Linked DNA regions of Homo sapiens: all the other regions are reported to be linked to region 1. The links are microRNA targets in miRTarBase. Many come from high-throughput screens and were not tested one by one. Region 1 holds a microRNA gene; each other region holds the end of a gene's coding sequence.
The links. Region 1 holds the annotated microRNA hsa-miR-3116 (UGCCUGGAACAUAGUAGGGACU, at 1,814-1,835, opposite strand). A microRNA usually pairs through its seed, bases 2 to 8, with sites in the 3' UTR of a target mRNA and lowers its output. Matches are read on the target gene's strand: a 7mer-m8 pairs with bases 2 to 8, a 7mer-A1 pairs with bases 2 to 7 and ends in A, and an 8mer does both.

Region 2: the mRNA of CDC14B is a reported target of hsa-miR-3116. Seed matches in the 3' UTR shown: 7mer-A1 at 1,890-1,896.
Region 3: miRTarBase lists RSL1D1 as a target of hsa-miR-3116. Seed matches in the 3' UTR shown: 7mer-A1 at 1,882-1,888.

What each region holds. Positions count from the first base shown.
Region 1 is chr1:62,076,981-62,082,055 of GRCh38, forward strand. MIR3116-2 (microRNA 3116-2) reads right to left here and starts at 1,876; the gene lies at 1,809-1,876. It overlaps PATJ (PATJ crumbs cell polarity complex component), which reads left to right. Exons shown (of 44, transcript NM_001350145.3): 32 at 2,470-2,587. MIR3116-1 (microRNA 3116-1) reads left to right here and starts at 1,806; the gene lies at 1,806-1,879.
Region 2 is chr9:96,499,021-96,504,095 of GRCh38, reverse strand. It overlaps CDC14B (cell division cycle 14B), which reads left to right. Exons shown (of 14, transcript NM_033331.4): 14 at 307-3,983. The coding sequence ends at 343. Among named protein-coding and RNA genes, the nearest start is that of HABP4, 51 kb to the right of the region's middle.
Region 3 is chr16:11,833,457-11,838,531 of GRCh38, forward strand. It overlaps RSL1D1 (ribosomal L1 domain containing 1), which reads right to left. Exons shown (of 9, transcript NM_015659.3): 9 at 394-4,657. The coding sequence ends at 4,331. Among named protein-coding and RNA genes, the nearest start is that of BCAR4, 7.2 kb to the left of the region's middle. RefSeq lists a silencer at 4,981-5,075.

The sequences.
Region 1 (5,075 bases):
AGTGTCAGAGACCCAAGCACCTCTTATCTGATTACTATACCATTCTTATTTGATTACTCTACCACCCTCAAATGGTGGCATCCATTCTTTAGTTTAAGAGGGCTGCTTCAGTTATTACCAACACATCTGTATTCCAAGCAGTGAGAAGGGAAAGACAGGATCTTTCTCCTTAGGAGAATGACCTAAAAATTGTACATTCACTTCTGTTTACATCCCATTGACCAGGACTTAGCCTGTTGGCACACCTACCTTCAATGAGGCTAGTAAATGTGGTCCTTAGAATAATTGGATATCTAAGTCCTCTCAATGTTGTTTTCTTATAGTAACCCCTTATTTGTCCTTTTCTACTTTCTTCCTTTAAAAATCACTGATAAATATGTAATTGAAAAAGTCTCTTTTTAGTCAATATTAAATGATGCTGATAGTGGCGGGGCACAGTGGCTCATGCCTGTAATCCCAGCACTCTGAGATGCTGAGGTGGGTGGATTGCTTGAGTCCAGGAGTTCGAGACCAGCCTGGGCAACATAGCAAAACTCCATCTTTACTAAAAATACAAAAAATTAGCCAGGCGTGGTGGTGTGCGCCTGTAATCCCAGGTATTCAGGAGGCTGAGGTGGGAGAATCACCTGAGCCCAGGACATCAAGGCTTCAGTGAGCCGAGATCACACAACTATTACAGCCTAGGTGACAGAGTGAGACCCTGTCCAAAAAAAAAAAAAAAAGAAGATGGTGATAGAAAAACTGCAGGAAAAAACAAAAAAACTCCATAGAATCATTGCCTATCAGCTGTTTGATAAACACTTTAAGCTTGTAGCATTCTTCAACTATTGACTTCCGGTTCTACCTCTTTCTCTAATTAGCAGTGTGATTTCAAATATGTCACTTGACATTTATGCTTGGTTTTCTGCAAAAAGAAAAAAAGTAATATTTAACTGTCGGGGTTGTTCATGTGATTGAATGAATTTATGGATGTAAAAGTGTTTTGAAAACTAGAAAGCACAGTGCATATGCACAATGGATGGTATTGTTTTGTTGTTACTGCACACTGCACAATGCCCTGTATTGAGGCACAGCTTTCCACTGACAGAATCTTGAGGTGTTACAGTTCTGGAGCAGTTACCTTGGTCCTATTTCTAGACTCCAGGGGCAACCTGGTGCTTCACTACCAGACTCTTCCAGCTGGGGATGGGTTCCCTGGCCAACTGCAGATCCAGAAGGCAGGTCAGGTTACTACCTATATTTCTTAACTGCCTGTTAAATAAGCAAGGAGTCCTTTTGGTTTTTCTTAGTGTATGTATGTATGTATGTATTTATTTTTGGAGACGGAGTTTCATTCTTGTTGCCCAGGCTGGAGTGCAATGGCACGGTCTCAGCTCACTGCAACCTCTGCCTCCTGGGTTCAAGCAATTCTCCTGCCTCAGCCTCCCAAGTAGCTGGGATTACAGGCATGCATCACCACGCCTGGCTAATTTTTGTATTTTTTTCAGTAGAGATGGGGTTTCACCATGTTAGCCAGGCTGGTCTCGAACTCCTGATGTCAGGTGATCTGCCCATCTCAGCCTCCCAAAGTGCTGGGTTTACAGGCGTGAGCCACCATGCCTGGCCCCTTAGTTTTTTAATATTAATATTCATTGGAGGTACTGTCAGCAAAAATCCAGAATTACAAGTTAATTTTTCCCAAACTCACACAGTAGAGGTCCCTGTACCTTCACTGAATTGCAAGTTCACTTTCTACCCTGAGTTACTCATGTCTTCAGTTTTGCTTTTCTTTGTTCTTTCTTTCTTGTTCATTCATTCATCAAGCACTTTATTGAGTCCCTACTATGTTCCAGGCACTGGGTATCGTAGGTGCCTGGAACATAGTAGGGACTCAATAAAGGAGCTATGCTTCCTTTATGTGAATTAAATGTCACTGATGTAGCTGGCATTTAGTAGGCTTTCAGTAGGTGTTGGTTTTCTTTGTCTGCCCCTCATTTTGCTTAATTAACCTACCAAATGCATCTTTGACTCTAGTGTGTCCAGAAGAAATGGACAGTGTTGATGCTCTAAACATCCCCAGCGTAGATTGTTTTTCAATGTGCACAACACAGATAAGTCACTTCAAAGTCCATAGATAAAGGGGCTTCTTGCTGATTTCATCAGAATGAGTAGAAATTGCAAGATAATTTTTGTTTTGCCTCCCACCCCCAGCTTCATGTACAGATCACACTGACAGAGTATCTTCAGCTTTTATCTTTCCTCCCTTCCTTGATCTGCCCTTCATCAAAGCATTTTAGTTGTAAAGTTAAATAGGGAAGAATGAGGAACGAGGCATAAATCATCCTAACTTCTTGCCACCCTCCAACCTTATATTCTCAAAAGACATCATTGGACTGCACCATTGTTTTGGTAACAATACACCAGTTTTAAAGTATTTTCTTGTTACCTTTCTCCTTTTTGATATTCATCTAATTTTCCTTTCTTTTGTAGGCTGTCAGCCAGATGAAACAGCAAAAATATCCAACAAAAGTCTCCTTCAGTTCACAAGAGATACCATTAGCACCAGCTTCATCATACCATTCAACAGATGCAGACTTCACAGGCTATGGTATGATTCTTTCTCTCAGCAGATCTGGCTCATTAAGCCTTAGAGAAGGCAAGGGATCATAATGTCCTAAAACGAGAACTGGACCAGGAGGCAGAAGTCTGACTCTGGATACTTCCTCCGCTTCCTTAGCTTTGGGGCTTGGATAGGTCACTTCATTTCCTACATCATTTTTCCTCCTCTCTGCCATCGCCATTGCCTGTTGCTTTTTGAATATAAGAGCACTAGAACAGAACAGGACCTCAGTAGGTCAGGAGTTCAAGACCAGCCTGGCCAACATGGTGAAACCCTGTCTCTACTAAAAATACGAAAAATTAGCCAGGCATGGTGGCGCATGCCTGTAATCCCAGCTACTCGGGAGGCTGAGGCAGGAGAATCGCCTGAACCCAGGAGGCAGAAGTTGCAGTAAGCTGAGATTGCACCACTGCACTCCAGCCTGGGTGACAGAGTGAGACTCTGTCTCAAAAAAAAAAAAAAGGAAAAGAAAAGGACCTCAGTAAATGTTATTTGAATCTGAGGCTTCTGTATTATTCTTCTCTAATCTCTACAAAAGATTATATTTAGGTCTTGAGTAATATCTCTTTAAAAATCCTATCAAACCCAATTTTTAGCCCTGCAAATGTTGCTTTAAGCTGTTTGAAGAATGTTGATTTTCAATGCTTAAAGAAATTGGCATGCACATTCTGTCTTTAAATTCCTGGCTTGAATTATGCTGACTGGGGGTTGAAAATAGAACTTTATAAAGAATAATAGGTATTTCTACTTGCTTTTTTTTCTTTTTTTTTGAGACAGAGTCTCATTCTGTCACCCAGGCTGGAGGGCAGGGGGCTGATCTCAGCTCACTGCAACCTCTGCCTCCTGGGTTCAAGTGATTCTCCTGCCTCGGCCTCCTGAGTAGCTGGGATTACAGGTGCTCACCACCATGCCCGGCTAATTTTTACATTTTTAGTAGAGATGGGGTTTCACCATGTTGGCCAGGCTGGTCTCAAACTCTTGACCTCAAGTGATCTGCCTGCCTCGGCCTCCAAAAGTGCTGGGATTACAGACGTGAGCCACTGTGCCCAGCCCTACTTTGCTTTTGTGCAGTATACATCAGTAAAAAATAAAACTCTTTAAAAGACAGTACTCACCAATGGCAAAGCATAACCCTGCATTAATTTAGCAGTTCTGAAATCTTTGTGGTATTTGCCTTTTATATATTTTTTCATAAATATTAACTTCATAAAGTTCATCAAGCAGGTACTATTTTAAAGCATTGTAGATGTACTAAAACATTTGATGCATGTGGTCAGAAAACTATGGCGCATGGGTCAAATCTGGCCTACCAGCTAGTTGTGTATGGTCTACAAGCTAAAAAAGGTGTTCACTTTTTAAAGGTTGAAAAAACACCTAAGAAAATTTTATTAAAATATTCTATGAAATTCATATTTCAGTGTCCACAAATACAGGTTTATAGACACTCATTTGTTTCTGTATTGTCAGTGGCTTTTTTCACACTATAATGATGGAGTTAAGTAGTCACAACAGAGACAGTCTGGCCTGTAATGCCCTATTAAAATATGTATACTTGGCACTTTACCAACAATGCATGCTGACTATGGAGGTAGACAAGTTGAGTTTTGGTAATATATATCACATATTTATACTTAGATGACAGAAATTCAGCATCCTTCCTGGTTTTCATTCTCATGGTTAAATAATAAATAAACAAATAAATAAATAAATGAAGTTCATCATCCTACAGTTGAATCTATAGAAATTTTATTCATTTACTCATCTACTTACCAAGCATTTATTGAGGACTTGGTATGAGCTGGGTTTGGGGCTGGATTCCATGAGAGAAGTAAATAAAAAGATTGACTCAGGACTGGCTAGGGTGAGGCAAACGTGGAGGAGGGAAAAGAAATGCCATCTCCAGGATGTCTCACCAGGTTTTTTTCTCTCTTCTCACTCAGGAGACTACGCTAGTCATTTACAAAGGCAGTATAAACTTTTTATTTACTTATCTATTTATTTATTTGAGATGGAGTTTTGCTCTTGTTGCCCAGGCTGGAGTGCAATGGTGTGATCTCGGCTCACTGCAACCTCTGCCTCCTGGGTTCAAGTGATTCTCCTGCCTTAGCCTTCCTAGTAGTTGGGATTACAGGCATGTGCCACCATGCCTGGCTAATTTTGTATTTTTAGTAGAGACAGGGTTTCACCATGTTGGTCAGGCTGGTATCAAACTCCTGAACTCAGGTGATCCGCCCACCTCAGCCTCCCAAAGTGCTGAGGTTACAGGCGTGAGCCACCGCACCCGACCTAAAAGCAATAGAAACTTTTTAAAGCACCCATGAAAGTGTGCCACTATCGTACGTCATTTTTATTGTAAATTAATGGGAAATGTGGTATAAAATACATATGCTGCAAAAAGATTTAAAGACAAATTTGGTTTACAATTTAATATTCTGCCTTGCCTGTATCTTACCTAGAGCCTTTCTTTTTGTCTTAT
Region 2 (5,075 bases), not on the chromosome of region 1:
ACTTTCCTGGCCCTGCTGCCCCTGCCCGTCCGTCTTTTATGATTTTTATTTACTCGTATTGGTTTTTTTAAATTTCTATTTTTTGCAGAACTGAGCCTTTTTCTGCCCTGCCTTTCTCCTGTTTGTCTTTCCTTTGTGGTTGATATTGTGTTGTCTTCTCCAAAGTATTTGTCATTAGAAACTTACAGCAAGCGTATACTTTTTAGCATGTCAGTATTTTTATTATGTTGCCCTCCTTGTCTTTGATAACTGCCTGTGGACGCTGTGTAAACTTTCTGGTAAAAATCCTTTTTTTTCCCCCTGTAGTCTCTCCATTTCAAGGACTAAAACAGTCTTGCGTTAAGTAAAAACCTGTGACCAGAGCTGAAGGAAGACTCTAGGACTGAAAACTGCAACAGAAATTAGCACAATTTGAAAACAAAACAAAATTGCAAAAGCCTTAGTTGCTTTTTCCACCTAAGAAGTTGATCAATGGAGAAAATGTCCACTGGAGTTTGAATAATGAACTTTGAGTTTGGGTGCAAGCAAATGACTCAGAGAAGGGTCCAGCTCTCAAGCTGAATGACAAACATGCTGTTGTAAATTTAGTCTCAGGTGTAAATACCCAAGCCCTCTGGTACCCAGGGAGCTGGCTGGTCTGTGGTGCATGTGTGTCCCTGTGATGGCAATCATTGTAGTTGCTGGCCTTCAGAAGAATTGAGGATCTGATGGAGGTTTTTTATGTATTTATTTTCTGTTCACCTTGTGACCCTGTGTCAAAATTTATAAAGATACAAAAGGCATTACTGAAATGGTACTTTCTGTAATTTGATACTATTTGGCTTAATCATCTTCACTTGACTATTTGTAATACTGTTGTAATGTTAACTCTGTTAAGTACCCAAGCTGCTTGTCTTCCACCAAAGAGTGCTTTATTAACAAGAATCTGTGAAAATCACATTTAAACACTGTTGCATGTTGTAAGACCAGGTGGTACCTTAGTAACCTAAAACTTGCAAGAGAATATTAATGGTAGCTTTAGAAGACTCAGGAGGAGAAACTGACTTCAGAGTTGGAAGATGTTGCAAGTCGTTCCTTTTTCTGTCCTTCAGGGACTGAAGAACTGGGAGGCTGCCCATTGTTTGGTTGCCAGTCATACAAATTAAAATCATATTTCCTTCCATGAATGGAAGAAACACACTATTGGTTTTTCCCCTTGGAAACAGCAATCCCAAATAATGTCGGCTTACAAAAAAAAAAAGTTACCACTTTTTTAGAGTCCTTCCCTGTAACATTGGATTTTTTTTTTCCCTTATGAGATCCACCTAAGGCCATTGACGTGGCCTGCGATCTCAGTGACAATGATCTGCTTCTGGATCTCACTGTTGCCTTTGGTTAGGGAACACAACTAGTAACTCTGCAGAGTGCCTTCTCCCGCAGCCCTACTGGAACACAGCAGAGTCTGTGCCATGAAGCAGTTACAGAAACAGAATTGATGTGCTGCTAAAAAAAAAAAAAAAAATGGGGCCCGAAATAAAAGAATATATAGTACTCACCTCAGTTCCTTCCATAAGAAGTGGGTGGTTTAATGATTGTTAAGCCATTTTTGCCTGTGCCGGGAGCATGGAGGGCTGAGATGTCGACAGGCAGTGGGAAACAAATGCCCTCCTAAGCCACAAGGCGTGCGCCAGATTAGTAGGCAACTCCATTTTAAGAAGCTGCCTTTTTCACAAAACTGGAAGAAATAAAAGCGGTTGGAATAAACAAGTTAAAAGTCTTTAATGCAAAAAGTAATTGAAAGGCAGTGCCTCCATTTTGGTGTACTTTCTTGGAAGAAAGTATAAAATTGACCGGCATCATGAGAGACGGAAGATGCCGTGTTCTCAGCCAAACAAGCAACTCTTTCCCCGCCAGGCACTGTCGGGTGGGGTCAGGCCAGCTTTTAAACACTGGGGACTGGATCACAGAAAAACAGTGGTTTTCTGTCCCTGGAAATGAATAGGCACAAAGACCCACTTGGCTGTGGGCAGACTACTCTTCAATAAGATTTGGGTGGGAGGAGGAACATTCCTTTTGCTATTTTGAGCTGAGACAATATAAATATTCAAACTGTGCCATGCATAAAGCATTGAATTCTCAGGGCACCTCTTCTTCCCCTTACCCCTTTTAAGGCCATCCCCTCCATTAATAATAATCCAGGTAGTTGTGAAAATCGTGCTTCTATCTGATCCCTTCTTAGTTTGGCTTTTCATCCCATCAGAACAAGTAAACGTAGGCGCCACAGCTCTTGTGAGTACTGTCTCCCTCACGGTGAATGAGCCTCCTGGTGTTTCGTCCAAGAAAAGAAAGGGTGTCACTGGAACCACAGCCCTTTTTCATTTTATAAACTGCCTCTTCATGTTGCCTGCTCAAGTTTCCACCTAGAATTGCTATCACTGTGGCTCTTTCTAAAAATCTTTCTATTTAACTGGTTCACTGAAATTAGTCATAGAAAACTTGTGATTTGGTGAAGAGGCATTCCTTGTAATAACCAAATGACTTGGGATGGTGTGCATAGCAAGGGCAGTGTTACACTTATGAGGACTGTCTCTAGCATCCAGGAAGTCTCTGGGTCTGAGGGATGGAAAGTTCTTCCTGCTATGAATGAGAGTGGACTCTTCCCCTCACCCCCAACTGAAACCACAAACAACCAGAATCTTCTGGAATTCTGACTTAGAGTCGTTGTTATAGAAGACCTTGTTGCTATGGAACATGAAACTGTGTGTCAGATGGAGAGATCCCCTTAACCTAAGAGCCTTAAATAGCCCTGAAAGTACACTGGGACGGTTTGCGATGGAATTAAAATTGGAAGTGAATATTTTTAGGTGCTCTTGAAGCTTTCTGGGGACTCAAAATTATCAAAAGTCAGGGACAGTCCGGAGGAAGAGCGTCTGCAAAACTGGGTTCCTAGAAGTATAGACGGACTTAGCTTTTTGTAGAATTTGGTGAGGAGCAGCGCCTCGTGAGAGCAGAATGGCCTGGCGTGGCCAGTGCTTCCCGGCAGCACGCAGCTCTGCGGCCTCCAGAATTCCCCTGTTCTGAGCTTGATGCCCCTAGCCTGTCCCCTACCTACTTCCTCCCCTCCTCTCTAGCCCTCTCACAGGGGTGATTGCTACCTCTCTGTTTTCTTGGGCCTAGGCAAGTTTTAGAGGAGTTCCCAAGCATTGTTATGAGGCCAGTGTGCTCGCTGGGCTGGGCGGGATGGCCTGGGCTTGTGTGTGGCCTGAGGGCTCTCCTGGGGCCTTCTCTTTTCCCAGTCACCTTTGGAGCCACAGAAGCAGTGCACTCATTGGATGTCTGTTCTTAACACAGCTTCTCTTTCTACATTAAAAAAAATCATTATTGCATTTTGGAAAGCAGTGCTCATCAAAAGCAACTTTTAAAACCTATTTTATTGTTCCTTTAAATGTTCTCTCCCGCTGAAACTGCCCTGGAGAGGCTATCTGCTGCTCTTCCATTTACCCACATCAGGTTATTCTCCATGTCACTCAGTGGAGATGACTCCAGATGTGTTTAAAGACTGGACAATTCACCTATACTGTGTAGGAAATTACCTCCTTAATTACCTGGTAGAATTGTCAGCAGACATGTTCATCCGATGATAGTACTGCAGTTTTCTATTAATAATTTGCAGACTTTTATCTAACCTGCACTCATGTACAGATTATTAAAAGTTTTAAAATGTAACTGATCAGTATTGATCAATCATTGTCTTGATTTTTTTTTACAGCGTATATTTCTAATCATATTTTTTAAAGCCAAGAGAACTGGTTGAATGAATGTTTATTTTCCTGAAGGTATTTTTAAGATAAAGCTTCCTAATGGCGTGTAAACTTTGCATATGTATGTAGTTTGATACATATTGTCACATTTGAAAATCTTGTGGGTTGTAACTGGTTTTATACAAAATATCGAATAGTGGAAATTGTATAATTACAATCATGTAATTAAAAGTATTAACCCAACAGCCTTTTTGTTTATTGTGTTACTTACCAAGCATTTTGAATTCTGGTAGGCAGTGGGTTAGATCATAAAGCAGAGGTAACCCGGAATCTGTGTAAGTTTTCTAGGACGGCCATAATGGAATACCCCAGACTGGGTGGCTGACACAGAAGTTCATTTCCTCACAGTTCTGGAGGCTGCAAGTCCACGACCAAGCTGTGGGCGGGCTTGGTTTCTCCCAAGGCCTCTCTCCTGGGCTTGGAGGCGCTGCCTCCTCGCAGGGCCTCTCTTTGGTGCCTGCGTGGCCCTGGTGCCTCTCTTCCCCTCTACTCCCCTCTCAAGAGGACACCAGTCAGATTGGATTGGGGCTTACCCCGATGGCCTCATTTTAACTTCACCACGTCGTTAAAGTCCCCATGTCCACATAGAGCCACATCTGAAGGGGCTGGGGTTAGGGCTTTAGTGTTTGAATCTGGAAGTTAGTCCAGCCCCCTTCTGTAGGGTAAGGTGGTGAGTGACAGGGGGCTCCTGCTGCCAGGCCATTCCTCACACCCCAGCACCAGCTCACACAACACAAAGTTTTGACTTTCTGCAGACCTCTAAAGATAAGACTTAAGTCAGTCAGGCTCTTGGGATCCTGCAGGGCATTTTGCCTGCCAAGGTCGGGCGGCACCGGCCCCAGCACCCTCCCCAGCTTGTGGTCCAACCCCGGACGCCAGACCCCTGCTTTCTACCTGCCTTGCCTCTGGTGCCGGGCAGGACCCCAAGGGCTCAGTGTCCACACCTCACACACAGCTTACTGCTGAGACTCAAGACCCTGTGTTCTGTCGAGTTCTACCCAGTTCCCCCAAGGAGCTGTGCTTGGATTCACACTGGGTTACAAGTGTCCAAAGTAAAAACCAGAGACCTGCCTTCTCGCCCCTCTCCCGACTCCACACCACACATGACCCCCCAGAGTGTTCATTTGCAGACCCTGGCTCTGTGGGAGCTGTGGCCTCTCCCTGCCCCTCCATGGCTTCCCCTGAGGCCACTAGAGCTCTCCCCTGACCCACTAGAGCTCAGGCAGCTGGCGCCACCACGCAGCTCCGTGAAGTCCCTGAGTGCTGCAAAGGGGC
Region 3 (5,075 bases), not on the chromosome of region 1:
CACGCCCAGCTAATTTTTTGTATCTTTAGTACAGATCGAGCCAGGATGGTCTCGATCTCCTGACCTCGTGATCCACCTGCCTTGGCTTCTCAAAGTGCTGGGATTACAGGTGTAAGCCACCACGCCTGGACTTTTTTTTTTTTTTTTTGAGACGGATCCTGCCTCAGCCTCTTGAGTAGCTGGGATTACAGATGTCCACTACCGTATCGGCTAATTTTTGTATTTTTAGTAGAGACAAGGTTTTGCCATGTTGGGCAGGCTGGTTTTGAACTCCCAACCTCAGGTGATCTGCCCACTTCAGCCTCCCAAATTGCTGGGATTACAGGCGTGAGCCACCGTGCCCAGCCACAATGTGGTGTTTATTATACAGTTGGATTGACTTAAATACATTCATGGCATTTAAAATGAAATTTTAATTATTACGATTCCTAAAAAACAAATGAACTAAAACTCAATTACTTCCTTCAGAACAAAAACGTTACACTCAAATTTCTCCCATCAGATCTCATTTGGTTCATTAAATCTCCCTGGTGAAGAGGATGGATTCCAGAAACCCAGTGCCAACAATGAAATATCACCCTCATACTTGGCCCACGAGAACATCATATACCATAGTAGAGATTTCGCCCTCCTCTTGGCCCCCGGGGGAGACTACTGTTGGCTCCTAGCACTATCAGCTGGCTAGGAATGTGTATGCAACACTTCTGAAGCCTTGGAAACATAGTACAGAATGTACCCATTTTAGGATGATTCAACTTTATGATTTTTCAACTTTTTGATGGTATAAAAGCGATACATAATCAGTACAAACCATATACATACCACCATTTTTCAGTACAGTACTCATTACATGTGTCAACACTTTATTATAAGATAGGTTTTATGTTAGATGATAACACCAGCATCTTGCTCAATAAATTGAAGCCAGCTTTTTCAACAGAGAACATTATTAGAATGAAACTAGATGCAAGAACAGGAAAGTAAACACCTGTGTCATGTTCAACAAGACTGAACTACGGAGCAAAGAATCACACAGTGTTGCAAGATCTTGAACTGACTAGATGATAGGATTACAAAAACCACACAGCTATTGCTGGAAAATTATGTCATGCAGAGAACAGACTGGCACGATTACATATGTGGGTTTGTCCTACACAAACCAGACCTTTAAGTGAAACAAGTCTATCCAACCATCTTCCCATAAAACCTAGTTTCTATGGAAAACAATCAATTAAGCTAAACCCCCACATTTTAGATGTATATTCATTTATAGAAGCCCAAAAGGACAGTGGGGTTACAAATAATTTTATATTTTAGATGCTTTCATAATTTAAAAAGTTAACATTACAATTTGTGTTACTAAAATGCAAAAACAGGATTGGCATGCTGCCTCATGCCTGTAATCTGAACATTTTGGGAGGCTGAGGCAGGAGGACTTGAGCCCAGGAGTTCGAGCCCAGCCTAGGGAACACAGGGAAAACCCATCTCTACGCAAGACGTAAAAACTGGCCAGCTGTGATGGCATGCCCCTGTAGTCTGAGCTACTTGGGAGGCTGAGGTGGGAAGATCGCCTTGAGCCCAGGAAATTGAGGCTGGAGCTGTGATGACACTAGTGCACTCCAGCCTGGGGAACAGAGTAAGACCATCTCCCCCACTGCCCGCTACTCTCGCTACCAAAAAAACAGCAAAAGCAGGCTAGACTCCTCTAATTTCAGGGAGAGCTAGATGTTTTTTTTTTTCTCTTTTTTTCAGTTTTGCTCTGCCGCCCAGGCTGGAGTGCAGTGGTGTGATCTCAGCTCACTGCAACCTCCACCTCCCGGGTTAAAGTGATTCTCCTGCTTCAGCCTCCCAAGTAGCTGGGATTACAGGTGCCTCCCACCATGCCTGGCTAGTTTTTGTATTTTTAGTAGAGATGGGGTTTCACCATGTAAGCCAGGCTGGTCTCAGAACTCCTGGCCTCAAGTGATCTGCCAGCCTTGGCTGGGATTACAGATGTGAGCCACCACGCCCAGCCTCATTTTTTTTGAGACTGGGCCAGGGAAGGGGGCAGTGGGCCAGGGACTGTCTCTCTCTGTTGCCCAGGCTGGAGTGCAGGATCGTGATCATGGCCCATTGCAGCCTCTACCTCCCGGGTTCAAGCAATCCTCCCACCTCAGCCTCCCAAGAAGCTGGGACCACAGGCATGTTCCACCACACCCAGCTTATTTTTGGTAAAGATGGGGTTTTGCCATATTGCCCAGGATGGTCTCGAACTCCTGGGTTCAAGCAATCCACCCAGCGTTCCAAAGTGCTGGGATTATGTTGCGAAAAGCTGAGTGTTGGGAGAAGCTGAGGCAGGGCTTGCATTCTGACATAATGTAAAAGAGTCTTGGAATATGTCCAGGGTCAAGGGTCTAAAACCCCTTGTGGTCTTTGGAACACCAAGCTCTGTGCTAAAGGGTGGAAGGCTGCCCTGACGCACCATAATCTAAGCCCAGGGCATAAAATCCCTCGTGGCTTGGATAAAATCCAGGGCCTGTGGCTCTGGAATGTCTAGACTTGCTGGCTCCTTGCTCTCCCAGGATCGACTGTAACTTGAGTTAAAAGAACCTGCTCTCCATCATCTCAAGTAGCAGAGCAAATGCTAAACCATCACAGCTGTAAATCATGTGCTTAATGCAAGGTGCCCTTCTGACCTTCACATTCTCACCATCTGTTTCTTTGTTGGATTACCAATAAATAGTGTGGGCTCCCAGAGCTCACGGCCTTCACAGCCTCCACCATCCCGATGGTCTGCTGGTCCTACTTCTCTCTCAAACTGTCTTTTTCTCAATCCTTTGACTCCACTGGACTTTGTCACCCCCACGACCTGGTGTTGGGTCTGGTCACCCTAACAGGGTTACAGATGTAAGCCACTGCATCTAGCACCCACATTATCTTTGAAAGCAGTTGAGTCTTTGGCATGCAAGAACATTCCTGCACTGCAGTGAATCTGTGAACTTACTACTACGGATGCATACCAATTCACAACCAGTGAAAGGCCACGTACCTAAAAAGGTGTTTACTGCCTCAGAATATACTTGACAATTGTGGAAACGTTAGCAATCTACTCTTCCAAGATTCCTTGGAGTTGTCATACATAAGCAAATCCATATGGACTGAGGAATAAGGAGGAAGAGGATAAGGCTTATGGAAGATAAATCATGTTCTTGCCTCCGGTAGGTAGGATTCAATTTAGTCCCTGTATAAATGACTCCATGTTAATTTCCCTTCCCATATGGATGCTAATCCAGTGACTCATAAGCTTAGACCAACAAGCTCAGCATGAAAGCCAAGAAACTTCTGTTTCTCCTAAATTCCGTAGCCGACTCTCATACAGCGAGACCCTCACTGGGCCACTCTGGGAATGACTACAAATGAATATGATGGAGTCCATGTGAATAATGGTTGAGCAGGTGAGGAAAAGGGTCACATCACAGACCTCAAGTCAGACCCACTGATTTGGAAAGCCAACAGTATACTCAGAAGCAAAGCAATGTTATACTTTGTTTTTTCTGAGACAGAATCTCACACTGTCACCCAGGCTACAGCACAGTGGGGTGATCGTGGCTCACTGGAGCCTCAACCTCTTGCGCTCACTTGATCCTTCCACCTCAGCCTCGTGAGGAGCTGGGAGCACAGATGCATGCCACCATGCCACACTAATTTTTTTTTTTCTTTTGTAGAGATGGGGTTTTACCAAGTTGCCCAGGCTAGTCTCAAACTCCTGGCCTCAAGCAATCCTCTCACCTTGGCTACCTAAAGTGCTGAACAACCACAGAGAAGCACTCTATTTTTCCCTCTATTACATTAGCAAATACACAGAAGGACAATTTAGAAACAGATTATACCCAGGAACATATGTCAGGATTACTTATGGAGGTTTTATTATTTTTATTTATTTTTGAGACTGAGTCTTGCTCTGTCATCAGGCTGGAGTGCAGTGGCTCACTGCAACCTCCGCCTCCCAGGTTCAAGCAATTCTCCTGCCTCAGCCTCCCTAGTAGCTGGGATTACAGGTGTCCACCACCATGCCCAATTAATTTTTGTATTTTTGGTACAGACAGGGTTTCACCATGTTGGCCAGGATGGTCTCGATCTCGTTGACCTTGTGATCCGCCTGCCTCGGCCTCCCAAAGTGCTGGGATTACAGGCGTGAGCCACCGCCCCTGGACTACTTATGGAGGTTTTAAAAAATCTTTTAAGTCCAGGCCTGACGTTTAGAGAAGGTTACAAAGGCGGCCAGGATCTGAGTATTTCCAAAAAGCTCTGGAGGCAGCATTGAGGTTTCCTTCCAGTTGAATCACTGACTTTAGGTCGACTGGGGTACTTTGGGTTTTTTGGGCCATTTTTTGGGGGTGTGGGAAGCTTTTCTCACAGATTTACTAGGAGTGGTGAAAAACTTGGCCTCTGGCTTTTTTGGAGTCTGTCTCGCATCTTTTTTCCCCAGCGAAGGACTTTTTTCCTTCACTGCCTCTTCTTTGATTTTTGGCTTCTTCTCTGGGCTTTTCCCTGGGGTCTCAGACTCTGCAGCTTTTGGGGTCTCAGATGCTGGCAAAGCCTTTCTTTTCTTCCCACGAGGTGTGCTGGGATTAGGACTCTTTGCTGGAGACTTCTTTCCTGTGGCATGTTTTTGAATCTAAGAAAAAAAAAAGTAAGTTTAATATAGAAAAAGCCACAAAACCTGACACTCTAACTCCAGGAGTTACTGTTTTTATTTGTATTTATTTATTTTTCAGACTGAGTTTCGCTCTTGCTGCCCATGCTAGAGTGCAATGGCACAATCTCAGTTCACTGCAACCTCTGCCTCCCGAGTAGCTGGTATTATAGGTGTGTGCCACCACGCCCGGCTCATTTTTTGTATTTTTAGTAGAAACAGGGTTTCACCATGTTAGCCAGGCTGGTCTCGAACTCCTGACCTCAGGTGATCCACCTGCCTCGGCCTCCCAAAGTGCTAGGATTACAGGCGTGAGCCACTGTGCCCGGCCAAGTTACTGTTTTTCAGCGCATGGCCAAGTTACTGTTTTTATTAGTTAACCCCCAAAAGGTACACCTCA